Linked DNA regions of Homo sapiens: regions 2 and 3 are each linked to region 1. The links come from fine-mapping of genetic effects on gene expression. A gene starts in region 1. Each other region holds a variant in brackets. All regions are shown on one strand. Distances are from middle to middle.

Region 1 (4,184 bases):
TTCTGCTGAAAGTTACTATTATGCCAAAGAAAGGCCAGGTGAGCTTTTCTTCTGAAGAGACAGAGCCGCCCAAAGGACAGTGGTTTCCAACACTTACCTTCTCTGCCATCCCTTCTTCTCCTCCAATGAAAAAGTCTGTTTTGCGTCGAAGGAAGCTGAAGAAGGTGTTCACAAGCTGAAAGAGGGGGAGAAGATTAAAGTAGTAGAGCTGCATTTGGGAGCCCTTCAACTGCACACAAGTCAACTTGTTTTGTCTAGGAGGGAACTTGGGACTTGACTATTTTTCCTCTGAGCTTCCCAACTGAGGAGATTATCTCCCCAGCAGGTTCTCTTAGTCACTTCCACCATGAAGCAGATTTCTCATATCCTGTGTGTGTGTGCGCCTTTCACTTTCCTTGTGATGCTAGAAGCAGCCTAAGCGTATGGAACACTCCTCTGCATCCAGGGCATGAAAAGCCTGGGCCCAGCTTTCCTCTCCAGAAAGTAAAAAGCCCATCAAGACACTGGCTCACACCTATAATCCCAGTACTTCAGGAGGCTCAGGTGGGCGGGTCACTTGAGGTCAGGAGTTCAAGACCAGCCTGGCCAACATGGTGAAACCCCGTCTCTACTAAAAACACAAAAATTAGCTAGATTACAGGTGGTGGGCACCTGTAATCCCAGCTACTTGGGAGGCTGAGGCAGAGAATCACTTGAACCCGGGAAGCAGAGGTTGCAGTGAGCCAAGATCGTGCCACCGCACTCCAGCCTGGGTGAGAGACTCTTGTCTAAACAAAAAAAAAGACACTGGCTAAGTTACCGGGTCAAAGCAAGAAGGAGGAGAGCAAATGAAGCCACTTCAAAGGAGGATAAGATGGATTAATTCTGGCTGGAGTACAAGTGTAGCCAACGGTTTGAGTATCAGATGGACATATATTACCTTTTGACTTTGCAGAAGTTTCTTAACTCTGTACAACAGGAATAAGATGCAGTACCTATTTCTAGGGACCTGGTGAGGATCATGAGGTCAAGGAGGTGAGGCCTTTAGCAATGTATGGCACAGAGCAAGAGACCCACTGGCAGAGGGTAAACACCTTACAAATAGGAACCATGAACCATGGCTTAGTCTGTCTGCCACCTGCAATGCTGGGCACCAGATATGGCTAAAGGTACATAATCAGTAAAATTCTTGCTGAATGAAACAATCTAGTGGTGACTCAAGGTCAGCACACACAAACCCTTTATTTGCCCAAGAGTGGGTCTAAATCTGATTAAATCTGATGCTAGAACATATCTCAATGGTTTCCGTTCTTGCTTCTAGACAGTTTTTCAATTTGCTCAAAAATGAACTCGCTCCCAAATCCAGTTTTGTGCGAACAGTTTAGAGGAATGGAGACAGGAAGGCTTTTCACACTTGCAAATGAGAAACACTCTCCCCACCACAAAGGGCTTAGAAGTCCTTGGTCACCAGACACCTAGGTTACATAGGAATAGAAAGTTCAATGGAAACCTACCTCCAGTAAGACACAATCAGCCATGGACTCTGGGAAGCACACTGACCTGTCTAGGTGAGAACCATGTTGCATGATCTAGGCAAATCCTTGCCACTTCTCTGGCTCTGAGAATGAGAGTTCTGATCCTGACAGACTTTTCTACCGTTAACTTTGTGTTTGTTCCAAAAAAACCAACTCCAGAATCTGTAACAGTTGGCCCTTATTGTCGAGTGTGGGACACACATCAATCACACGACAAATACTTGTTGAATGAAAAAGCCTTATTACTGAGAACTTACGGTTCTTAACTACTCTCTGGAAACCGGTATTCGCAGCTGTCTCACAGATAAGGAAACTCAGGCTTGGAGAGATGTAAAGGTTCCAAGTTGGTAGGTGGTGGAAACTAATCGTGAACACAGGCCTCCTATTCCCCCATTCAAGGCCTAACAAGACCACGTGCTAACATCAGCCCGCTCCCCTACCACACACATTCGACGGCTCGCCCCAAGCCTTGGTGGATCCAAATCACGATATTTGCGACGGTTCTTACTAAGGGATGCTCCTTGGAAGCCGCCATCAAAGTGGAAACGGGGGTGGGGGCATATGTGAAACTAAAGGGGGATCCTAAGCTCAGGGATGCGATAATTTGCTACTACTGAGGGGCGCCGGGGGCCCGGGACTGATGCGAACCGGGTGAGACCTGCTGGCGGGTGGCCAGGCCGGAAGCTGGGCGCAGTGAGAATGTAGGGGCATCCCAGAAGCCCGCGAGCCGCTGGGGTGGGTCTCAGCCCTCGAAGGCAGAGAAGGGCGGAAGGAGCGTGGCCAAGGCCGCCGGGTGGGCCGACGCCGCGCGGGCCGTTACCTCCTGCACGCCGCCCTCGTGCTGCTGAGCCATGGCCAGCAACATGCCGTCGAACCGCTCCTCCTCCTGCTCTCCGCCCATCGCGCCGGCTCCGATCCACGTCCCGGAGCTCTGCACTCTAGTCCCGCGCTCTCTACGCTCCTGCGGGTCGCGCCGGGCCCAACGACTCTAGTCGTCCGCCTTCCGCAGCGGAGCCGGAAACACGCACGCGCGCGGCTGCCCAGGCCCGCCTCCACCTCCTCTCTTCCCGCCTTCCTCCCGGTTTGCGGCCATTGACCGTGCGGCAAGCAACCCGCTTCGCCGACCATTGGTCGACATTCGGAGCCAATCAACAAGCGCGTCCACGAAGCGGTAGGCGGAGCCGTGGGCCCGAGAGTTTGGCATGAGTTGCTATGGTCACCCGATGCCGTGGAGACTTCTAGAAAGCCCTGGACTCAAATCTGGCAGGGTTGGAAGTTAAAAAGGGACAAGTTTTGCCCCTCTCCCTTGCTAGCGACCCCCCCAGCTTGTAGAGCAGTGAAGCTGAAAGTAGCCTTACTCATCTCTTCCAATCCTAGAAGGGACTTACCACAGGACAGCCTCCTCCTCATCGACCTCACTGCGTACTTGACTAGGGCCAGCTTCATGGGAGTACAAATTGCAGTCGCACAGCACCCAGGCTTAGAAAGGCTCCACGCTTGATTTCATGGCCTTCTGTTATAGTCTTGAAATTCTTAATAATTTTGGAATAAGGAGACCCACATTTTCATTTTGCACTGGGCCCAGGAAATTATGACAGGTGCTGAAATTGACCTTCACTTCTGTTAATGCGGGGACAGGACCCAGCCATCCAAGCTAATCCCTCCACTTGTGCAATGAATCTCATCATCTTAGTCTTTTCAGGAACTCTATCCCTGTTAATTATCCCTTTTTTTAGCTTATGCATCACAAATATCTTTCTTCTTCCCTTCAATTTACAAACACGCTTTAATATCTTTTTGTTTGTTTTTAGAGATGGGGTTCTTGCATTGTCACCCAAGCTGGAGTGCAGTGGCACCATCTTGGCTTACGGCAGCCTTGAACTCCTGGACTCAAGCCATCTTCCCCACTTCAGCCTCCAGAGTAGCTGGGACTACAGGCTCACATCACCACGCCCTGCTGTTTTTTTTTTTTTGTTTTTTGTTTTTTGTTTTTTGGTAGAGATGGAGTCTGTGTTGCCCAGGCTAAGTCTCAAACCCTGGTCTCAAGCACTCCTCCTGCCTCAGCCTCTCAAAGTGCTGGGATTACAGGTGTGAGCCACCATGCCCAGCCCTGTTTTTATATTATTATTCCATGGCCCCACTTTCTTCTGCTGCTACCTCTCCAATTTTCAGCTCTCATTTGCAGCAAACTTGTTTGCTTGTTTTTCTACTCCCTCACCTCCCATCTCTCTACAGTATATTCTAGTCTATCTATTCTTCTTTTTTTTTTTAGACCAAGTCTCACTCTGTTGCCCAGGCTGGAGTGCAGTGACACGATCTCAGCTCACTGCAACCTCTGCCTCCCAGGTTTAAGTGATTCTCAGCCTCCCAAGTAGCTGGGATTACAGGCACCACTACGCCTAACTAATTTTTTTTTGTATTTTTAGTAGAGGGGTTTTCACCATGTTGGCCAGGCTCGTTTCAAACTCCTGACCTCAAGTGATCCACCTGCCTCGGCCTCGCAACGCGCTAGGATTACAGGCATGAGCCACTGCGCCCGGCCTGTTCTAGTCTATTTTTTAAAGGCTCTGATATGGTTACAGTGCTACATATTGCCAAAGCCAATGAACCACTATTATCTTACTCAACTTCTCAGGTGCATTTGACACAGTTGACGCCTTCTTCTTTCCT
Region 2 (4,184 bases), 26 kb after region 1:
CCTGGAGAAGTTTGAGAGGGAGGAACAGCATGAGGCTAATGGATTTATTTTATTATTTATTTATTTATTTTTGAGACAGGGTACTCTGTCGCCCGAGATGAAGTGCAGTGGTGCAATCTTGGCTCACTACAGCCTCACCTCCCAGGCTCAAGCAATCCTCCTGCTTCAGCCTCCCAAGGAGCTGGGATCACAGGGTGCACCACCACTCCCAGCTAATTTTTTTATATTTTGTAGAGATAAGGGTCTCACCATTTTGCCCAGGCTGGTCTTGAACTCCTGAGCTCAAGCAATCCTCCTGCCTCAGCCTCCCAAAGTGCTGGGATCACAAGCGTGAGCCACTGTGTCGGCCTAGATTTTTACTAGGGATTTACTAGATGTTTACTAGGGAAAGGCTAACAGATTTAAACATTGGCCAATTTCTGGCTCAAGTGTTGCTGGAGGCTTCTGGGTTTCAAGATCTATTCTCCCTCCTTTCCAAGGTCTGGGCTCCTTTCCCTTCAAGACCCGGAAGGAACTGCAGAGTTGGAAGGCAGAGAATGAAGCCTTCACCCTGGCTGACCTGAAGCAACTGCCGGAGCTGAACCCACCAGTGCTGATGCCCAGAGGGAATGTGGGGACTCCCCTGCGGGTCTTTTTGGAGTTGATCCGGGCCTGCCGCCTACCCCCTCGGATCATCACCCAGCTGCAGCTCCAGTTCCCCAAGACAGGTTCCTCCCGGCGCTACGGCAATGTGCCTTTTGAGTATGAGGACTCAGAGACTGTGGAGCAGGAAGAGCTTGTGTATACAGCAGAGGGTGAAGAAATACCCCAAGGAACCTACCTGGCAGATATACCAGCCAGCCCCTGTGGAGAGCCTGAGGAAGAAGTGGGGAAGGAAGAGGAAGAAGAGTCTCACTCAGATGAGGTGAGTACAGTGTGCTACCCTGTCCTTGCTGGCAGCTGAAAGAGGCCGAAGGCATTAATAATACCACTCTTCAATTGTCTATTACAAGGGTTCTTAACCTGGGGTCCTCAGGAGGGTTCCAAGGAGTCCAAGAAGGAATGTAAAACTATATTTGCATGTGTGTTTCTGTATTTCTGTAGGGAGATGGTCCAGAGCTTTTACCAGAAGATTCGTAAGTGGGTCTTATTTTTCATTCCCTTGGAAGGGATATATAAGGATGGTTCCTTTTTTTTTTTTTTTGAGACGGAGTCTTGCTCTGTTGTCCAGGCTGGAGTGCAGTGGCACGATCTCGGCTCACTGCAAGCTCTGCCTCCTGGGTTCACGCCATTCTCCTGCCTCAGCCTCCCAAGTAGCTGGGACTACAGGCGGCCACCACCATACCCGGCTAATTTTTTGTATTTTTAGTAGAGACGGGGTTTCACTGTGTTAGCCAGGATGGTCTCAATCTCCTGACCTCGTGACCCGCCTGCCTCAGTCTCCCAAAGTGCTGGGATTATAGGCGTGAGCCACTGCGCCTGGCCAGGATGGTTCCTCTTTATTCATTTTTTTCTTTTTTTTTTTGAGACAGAGTCTCACTGTGTCACCCAGGCTGGAGTGAAGTGGTGCGATCTCGGCTCACTGCAACCTCCACCTCCTGGGTTTAAGTGATTCTCCTGCCTCAGCCTCCCGAGTAAGCTGGGACTTCAGGCATGTGCCACCACGCCCGGCTAATTTTTTTTTTTTTTTTTATTTTTAGTAGAGACAGG[G/A]TTTCACCGTGTTAACCAGGATAGTCTCAATTTCCTGACCTCGTGACCCACCTGCCTCGGCCTGCCAAAGTGCTGGGATTACAGGCATGACCCACTGCGCCAGGCCCATTTTTTCTTTTTTAAAAATTATTTCCAGCCGGGCACAGAAGCTCTTGAACCCAGGAGGCGGAGGTTGCAGTGAGCTGAGAAAAAAAAAAAAAATTCCACATGAAAGACCAGATAAGGAGAGTTCATTTTCATAGATGAAAATGTGCTGACCAAAACATGTGCAGTGACTTGTCTAAGATCATCTCAGGAAATAGAGGTAGAGCTGGGATATGAACCCAGTTCTTGCTTCTTCTCTAACCTGTGCGTGCTGTCATAATGTGGCTGAACAGTCATCTCTATTTTCTGACCTAGAGTCAGCAGATTGAACAGTAGCCTCCACTCTCACTTCATTAGTGACATAGACATTTCTTTGGTTCCTTTCTCCAAACTTGGTTGCACATCCATAAAATCAAGTAAGGTGTGATTTGTTGGGAAAACTTTTTTAAAAATGTGTACTCCGGGTAAAAAGTAATTCACCCATGTTTCAAAGCTTCCAGCCAGCTGGGTGCAGTGGCTCACACCTGTAATCCCAGCACTTTGGGAGGCCAAGATGGGTGGATCATTTGAGGTCAGGAGTTCGAGACCAGCCTGGCCAACATGGTGAAACCCCACCTTTACTAAAAATACAAAAATTAGCCAGGCGTGGTGCCTGTAGTCCTAGCTACTGGGAGGCTGAGGCAGGAGAATCACTTGAAGCCAGGAGGTGGAGGTTGCAGTGAGCTGAGATCGCACCACTGCACTCCAGCCTGGGCGATAGAGTGAGACTCTGTCTCAAAAAAAAAAAAGCTCCCAGCCAAGATTGCTAAGACATCTGGACCACATCCCTAGTGTGGTACCATCCTGACTTCCCCTCTCCTCTTCTCTCCCCTTCCTTCCTTCCTTTCCTTTTTTTTTTTTTTTTTTTTTAAGCAGGCTCTGGTTCTATTGTCCTGGCTGGAATGCAGTAGTGCAATCTCAGCTCACTGCAACCTCCAACTCCCTGGGCTCAAGCCATCCTCACCTCAGCTTCCCTAGTAGCTAGGACTACACTCACACATCACCACACTTGGCTAATTTTTGTATTTTTTGTAGAGATAGGGTTTTGACTTGTTGCCTAGACTGGTCTTGAACCTCTGAGCTCAAGGGATCCTCCCACCTTGGCCTCCCAAAGTGCTGGGATTACAGGCGTGAGCCACTGCGTCTGGCCCCATCCTGACTTTTCTTCAGCACTTGAAGGCCTACAGGGTTTCAAGCTAGGAGTCATTGTATCATTCCACAAGTCCCGTCAAGCCAAGGGCTAGTGTAGGATTCCAAAGGCATTCTAAGACCCATTTCCTGCCCTCAAAGAGCCTAAAATCTCCCTGAAGAGAAAGAACCAGCATCTGGAGATGCTGCACCTGGATGTGGCCACCCGGGTTTGCATTGCTGGCTCTGCTGCTCCCTCAGTGTACTCTTTTGGACAAAGAACTTTTTACTCCCCTGAACCTAGGTTTTGTCATCTGTAGAATGGGAATAATGGTACTTATCTCATAGGGTTGTTGCAGTGGTTAAAGGAGCTAAGCTATGGGAAGGGCCTGACACACCAGAGACAATAAGCATTATTGTCCATTCTTTCTTTGTGATATGACATAAAAAGGCCTAACCAGTGTGTACTGATTAGCATTGGGAGTTCAGAGACTGGTATGAGAGCTGTGGGCCTAAATGTGGGGGGCTTCATGTAGGCTGTATGACTTGAGGGATGAGGAGGATTTAATCAAGTGGAGAAGAGAAGGGTGTGGGAGAGGAAAGTGGGTATTTCAGGCAGGGAACAACATGGCCAAACGCGCAGAGGTGAGTCAGGCTTGTGGGGACAGGAGCAAACTGTTGAGAATTATCGGGCTGGAGACGTGTTGGTCAGGGGCCAAATATGTGCTGCTTCTTGGAGAAATCTGAAGGAATGGCGCTGAGGCTAGCCACACATGCCTCCTGTGCCCTGAGCTTCCCTCCCTCGGGGCATGAGGTCAGGAAGCTCAGGCAAATCACCTCTCCCTGCCTTTTAGGACGATGACCGGGGTGAGGAATGGGAACGGCATGAAGCGCTGCATGAGGACGTGACCGGGCAGGAGCGGACCACTGAGCAGCTCTTTGAGGAGGAGATTGAGCTCAAGTGGGAGAAGGGTGGCTCTGGCCTGGTGTTTTATACTGATGCCCAGTTCTGGCAGGAGGAAGAAGGAGGTAATGCTGGTACCCAGGCAAAGGCAGGGGTGACCCCTGCTGCATTCTTTTGGGGTTCCCTGTTCCACACGGTAGATTCTGTAGTGGTGAGCCCAAACAAAAGGCTAGGGAACAGGCTGACCTCTATTGTATACGAGAGACCAATCATCCTTTTTAAGAGTGGGGATCAGTGAGATGGAGAGAAAATGCCCCCCGCCCCGCCCCCAACAAATTCT
Region 3 (4,184 bases), 140 kb after region 1:
GGCGAAAGTGACCATACTGGCCTGCTGTACTTTACCAGAACTTTATGCTACTTCTTTTTGCTGTGGGATAAAAGGCATTCATTGGCAGTTTCCAAGATGCTGGGTGACATTTACATCCATCCTGACACTTGGGGTGACACCAGTCAGGTCTCATATACCAAAAGCATCCTTTTTGGCCTCTGCCCGATCACTTGAAGATGCCCATCCACCCAAGGACAAAGACTCTGCCTTGCCTCCAACTGCAGTACCCAAACACTCATCATTTAAAGCCCATGGTCACTAGGTATTTTTCACCATTCCTTCAGTGTTTGCCTTTCAGTGGTTAGAAAACCTTGACCCCACTGAGAGGCCTAGTGGGAAGGCCTTAGCCACTTGGGGGTGGCAGTGGCTGCAAGGCAAAAGAGCCAATGAGGTTGAGAGTATTGTTTAGGCTGGACTTGGCTGCTCTCCAGCTATGAAAGAAGGTTAAGGTCATTTGGGGGGTGGGGAGGGAGGAGCCTGGGAAAAGAACTACTGGCCACACCCCTGGGTTCTCTGCTGGCTAGGTTCTATTTACTTCTCAAAAGCAAATTACTCACAGCTCACTGGCCAGCAGTTCTCTTGGCCATGGTAACTCCAGTCAGAAACTGGAGACCAGGCTAGGCTCTCCCTGCATTGCAGGAGAGCAGATGAAAGGAACCCAGGAAACCGAACTCCTAGGTAATGCTCCACACACAGCCCAGATATGCAATTTCTAGACTAGCAAACGGAGCTCGAGGCCTAGAACAAAAATAGCCATTAGCAATATTGCTTACCAAAATTGTAGATATGAAAAGCTTCCCATTTACCTTTTTCTAGAAGAATCCTAGGAACGCATCTTGGTTGACAAAGGTTTTCCTCTCTCAATTGAGAAATACTAATTATTCAAATCCTGTTCCTGACCCAAATATTAACAGCCACACTTAGTCTGATGAACACTTGATTGAAATTCTGAGGACAATTTTACCTCGTGCTAAAGACAATAAAAACAAATCTTGCTTGCTGAGCTCCACAGCTAGATCCCTTACTCCTGGGTTGGGTTCTCATCCAGAAAGGAGGTAGTGTGGTATATTAAGAAAAGCATGATCCTTGGAGTCAGGTGGAACTTGCTTGGTGTATGAACTTAAAAAGCCTTTCACTTTTCTTAGCCTCTTTCTTCAACTGTAAAATGGGAGCCACATACTGACTTCACAGGCACAGGATTGTTGTAGGATTGTGATGTGCTATGTCCAGAATATAAGTAGGTACACAATAGAAAACTGTTGTTTCTTGTTTCAAATTTCACTTCTAAGTGTCCACAATGATAGCATTTTTTCTCTTTCTGCTTCTGATTTCTCCTGAGGAACTTGAGGCTTCTCTATTGTTTCCCTAAGGAAGGGGGTGAACAGAGAAACTATATATTGTGACATTAGCCTCATAAAAGCAACTGCATCTAGCCAACATCGACAGTATCATTCAACTACTACTTAAGTAGATGCTATGTGCCAGTCTATGTGTTAGCACCAGGATGCAGCAGTGAACAAAACACCCCTCCCACCACCCTCAGTTTACATTTCAGTGGAAGGTGACAGGTAAGTACAACACACAACAGGCCAGACAGTAACAAGTGCCACAGGAAAAATAAGGCAGACAAGGGAAACATAGTGGGGGGCAGAGATTGCTATTCTAAGTAAGGTGACCATGAAAAGCCTTACTTATATATTTG[G/A]ACAAAGACTTGAAGCAGTCGAGGACTTGAGCCATGCAGTTATTTGGTGAGAGAGTATAAAGTACAAAGACTCCAAGGTGGAAACATCTCTATACAGTGGGGTGAGCAACGGGCAAGACAGATGGTGCAGGAAAGGTAGAGGTAAGCTAGATAACTCAGGGCCTTGTAGGCCACTTTTTAAGAGTCTGGATTTTTACTTACTGAGTCAGAAGCACTGAAGGCGTTTGATCTGACTTACCTTTTATAGGGGTCCTTTTGGTTGCTCTGTTGAGAATAGGTTCAACCAGGCAAAGCAGAAGCAGGGAGGCCAATTTGGAGGTATTTCAAGAATCCAAGATATGACAGTATCTTGAACTACAGTAGTGTGGGATTGAGGATTATTTTATGAAGAGTGCTAACAGATTGGATGTGGAAGTGAAAGAAGTCAAGGATTTTTTTAGCCAAGTGATAGAATGGAGTTGCCATTTACTAAAAGGAAAACACAAACAAAAAAACCAAAACTATGGGAGAAGCAGGTTTCTAGTGGGGGAAGACAGGACATTTTAGCTTTGGCATGTTCAAAGTAAACTTCCAAGCAGGGATGACAAGAAAGGTGGCTGAATGCTCTAGTCTGGAGTCAGGGAAAAGAGCCAGTCCAGAGATATTATAAGTGATTAAGTTGGAGATTGCCTCCAGATAAATGGTTGTCTTATTTTGGAATATAGTAAATAAATGACAGGGTCCAGGAATGCCACTATTTAGGGGAGATCTCACACTAAGGGAGGTTTGCAAAAACAGGACTATCCCCCTGCCCCCCGACAAAAGGTCAAGTTTTAGTTTGAAAACAATAAAAAGCTTCACAAAAGTCTTACCAAGATTTAATGTACATTTATTCTTAACACGTGGAACATATAGTATAAAGATTTCATACTGAATAAATGATATTCATTAAGCCAAAAAAGGAAAAAAAGGAGGAATTTACATCAAGTTTTAGCTACATTGTTGAAATACAAATATGCAGATTTTATCACTGAAAAAATCTCAATTGTGTTTCTTCATCAGAACTTCAACTGAACCTAGAACTTTTTCACACCTCGATTAGAAAGAAAACAAAACAAAACAAAAACCCAGAAAAAAATAAACTATAAGTTGATTGGCTGCTGAGACAGCAAGGACTTTTTACAGAGACCTGTACAGCATCGCACCAAGAGGGGCGATATCTGGCAAGAGATTAAATAGCTGTGTCTCGCTTTGTGCAGGTCACCAACTTGTTAACTCGTCATACTATAAAGGGGTAGCTGGGAGGAGGACCAAACTGTGGGGATCCAAGGGTATGTGCAATGTACAACGTCATATATATACACACGTGGCAGCGTAGCCGCTGCAGCTAAAGGTTAAAACCAGTTCTAAGAGGTGATCTCAGGGTTATTCATACAATCAAGGAGGAGAGAAAGAGGTCAGGGTGTTGTAGGTTCACACATGATACTTTGGGGGAAAAGCCTTTTTTTTTTTTCTCCTCAACGTTTAACTAAAAACATTTTTAAAAACTACAGCTTGCTGCTGACCCAGCGTTTTCTGTTTCCATGTGAGACATTATTATTACAGTATGTTTACAGTATCAGGTGTACAGTACAGTACATGAAAGGGTCTACACTCTACTGCACAGGCCTCTCCAGTGAACAGGGTCTGTTCACAACTGCGAACTTCTTGGCTCCTGCAAGATTGTGAATGTACAACAATAAACCACACACAGTTCAGCAGTCACCTTTTTTGTCCTTCAGAATTTTTTTTTGTATTTTTTTTTTTTTTTTTTACCATTAAAAACAGTTATGAAATGTGGCATCCCGTTGATGCAAGGACTGGGAAAGCCATTTTTATTTTATTTTTTTTCCCCAAACTCACTGTAAACAACAGTAACTTTGGTTAAAATAAAAAAAGTCTTCTATGTAGGCAGAGCTTTGTCTTTTCAAAGAGGGTGGGGTAGGGTCCTGAGGGGAGTAAGGTGAGGACAAGGAACAGAAAGGCGTGAGGTGATGGAGGGAGGGGAGGTGGAAGGAGGAGAGAGAAACAGGAGAGACTTTTTCCCAAGGGAGAAGCTGGACAGCACAGGGTAAACTGGATTCTGAGGTGGTTTTGCATAAATAAAGGGCAACAGTCAGTTTCTAAGTTCTCCACACACGCACACACACACGGGGGGGGGAGGTGTCCCACGGCTGTCATGACTGGCCAATCAAAAACAGTACATCACAAATGACTTGTGAAACCAATGAGTTCATCAACGGTGATACCGAGATGTCCAACAGCCGTGATTCGTACAGAGTAAACTCTGAGTGGTTCTCGTCCACCTTGGCCAAGGCAAGCAGCGCGCGGGCAGCCCGCCGCATCATGTCCACACTAGTTGGCTCAAAGGGTGGGTTCTGCATGTGGAGGAGGCTGGCCTGGCTCTGCTGGAACTGTGTGGCGGCAAGGCTGTCCTCTAGGA

Alleles and levels. Alleles are on the strand shown, and positions count from the first base shown. SD is a standard deviation of normalised expression in the study named.
For the expression in skeletal muscle of the gene that starts at base 2,521 in region 1, A is the low allele of the variant in region 2 and G is the other (small effect, 0.35 SD a copy in GTEx).
For the expression in fibroblasts of the gene that starts at base 2,521 in region 1, allele A in region 3 goes with a lower level than allele G (small effect, 0.20 SD a copy in GTEx).

Evidence for each region. PIP is the estimated chance that this variant, and not a neighbour inherited with it, causes the effect. A credible set is the group of variants that fine-mapping cannot tell apart.
Region 2: its variant is the best candidate, but not a certain one, in a credible set for the expression of NUDC in skeletal muscle (GTEx, PIP 0.50).
Region 3: its variant is the best candidate, but not a certain one, in a credible set for the expression of NUDC in fibroblasts (GTEx, PIP 0.64).

The regions. Positions count from the first base shown.
Region 1 is chr1:26,920,080-26,924,263 of GRCh38, reverse strand. NUDC (nuclear distribution C, dynein complex regulator) reads right to left here and starts at 2,521. Exons shown (of 9, transcript NM_006600.4): 1 at 2,335-2,521; 2 at 98-175. The coding sequence starts at 2,415. RefSeq lists enhancers at 1,713-2,254, 2,375-2,494 and a silencer at 2,625-2,774.
Region 2 is chr1:26,894,021-26,898,204 of GRCh38, reverse strand. GPATCH3 (G-patch domain containing 3) reads left to right here. Exons shown (of 7, transcript NM_022078.3): 2 at 480-904; 3 at 3,795-3,969. Among named protein-coding and RNA genes, the nearest start is that of GPATCH3, 4.4 kb to the left of the region's middle. The variant G/A (reference allele first, on the strand shown) is at 1,690.
Region 3 is chr1:26,780,491-26,784,674 of GRCh38, reverse strand. ARID1A (AT-rich interaction domain 1A) reads right to left here. Exons shown (of 20, transcript NM_006015.6): 20 at 2,571-4,184. The coding sequence ends at 3,919. Among named protein-coding and RNA genes, the nearest start is that of PIGV, 5.4 kb to the left of the region's middle. The variant G/A (reference allele first, on the strand shown) is at 1,724.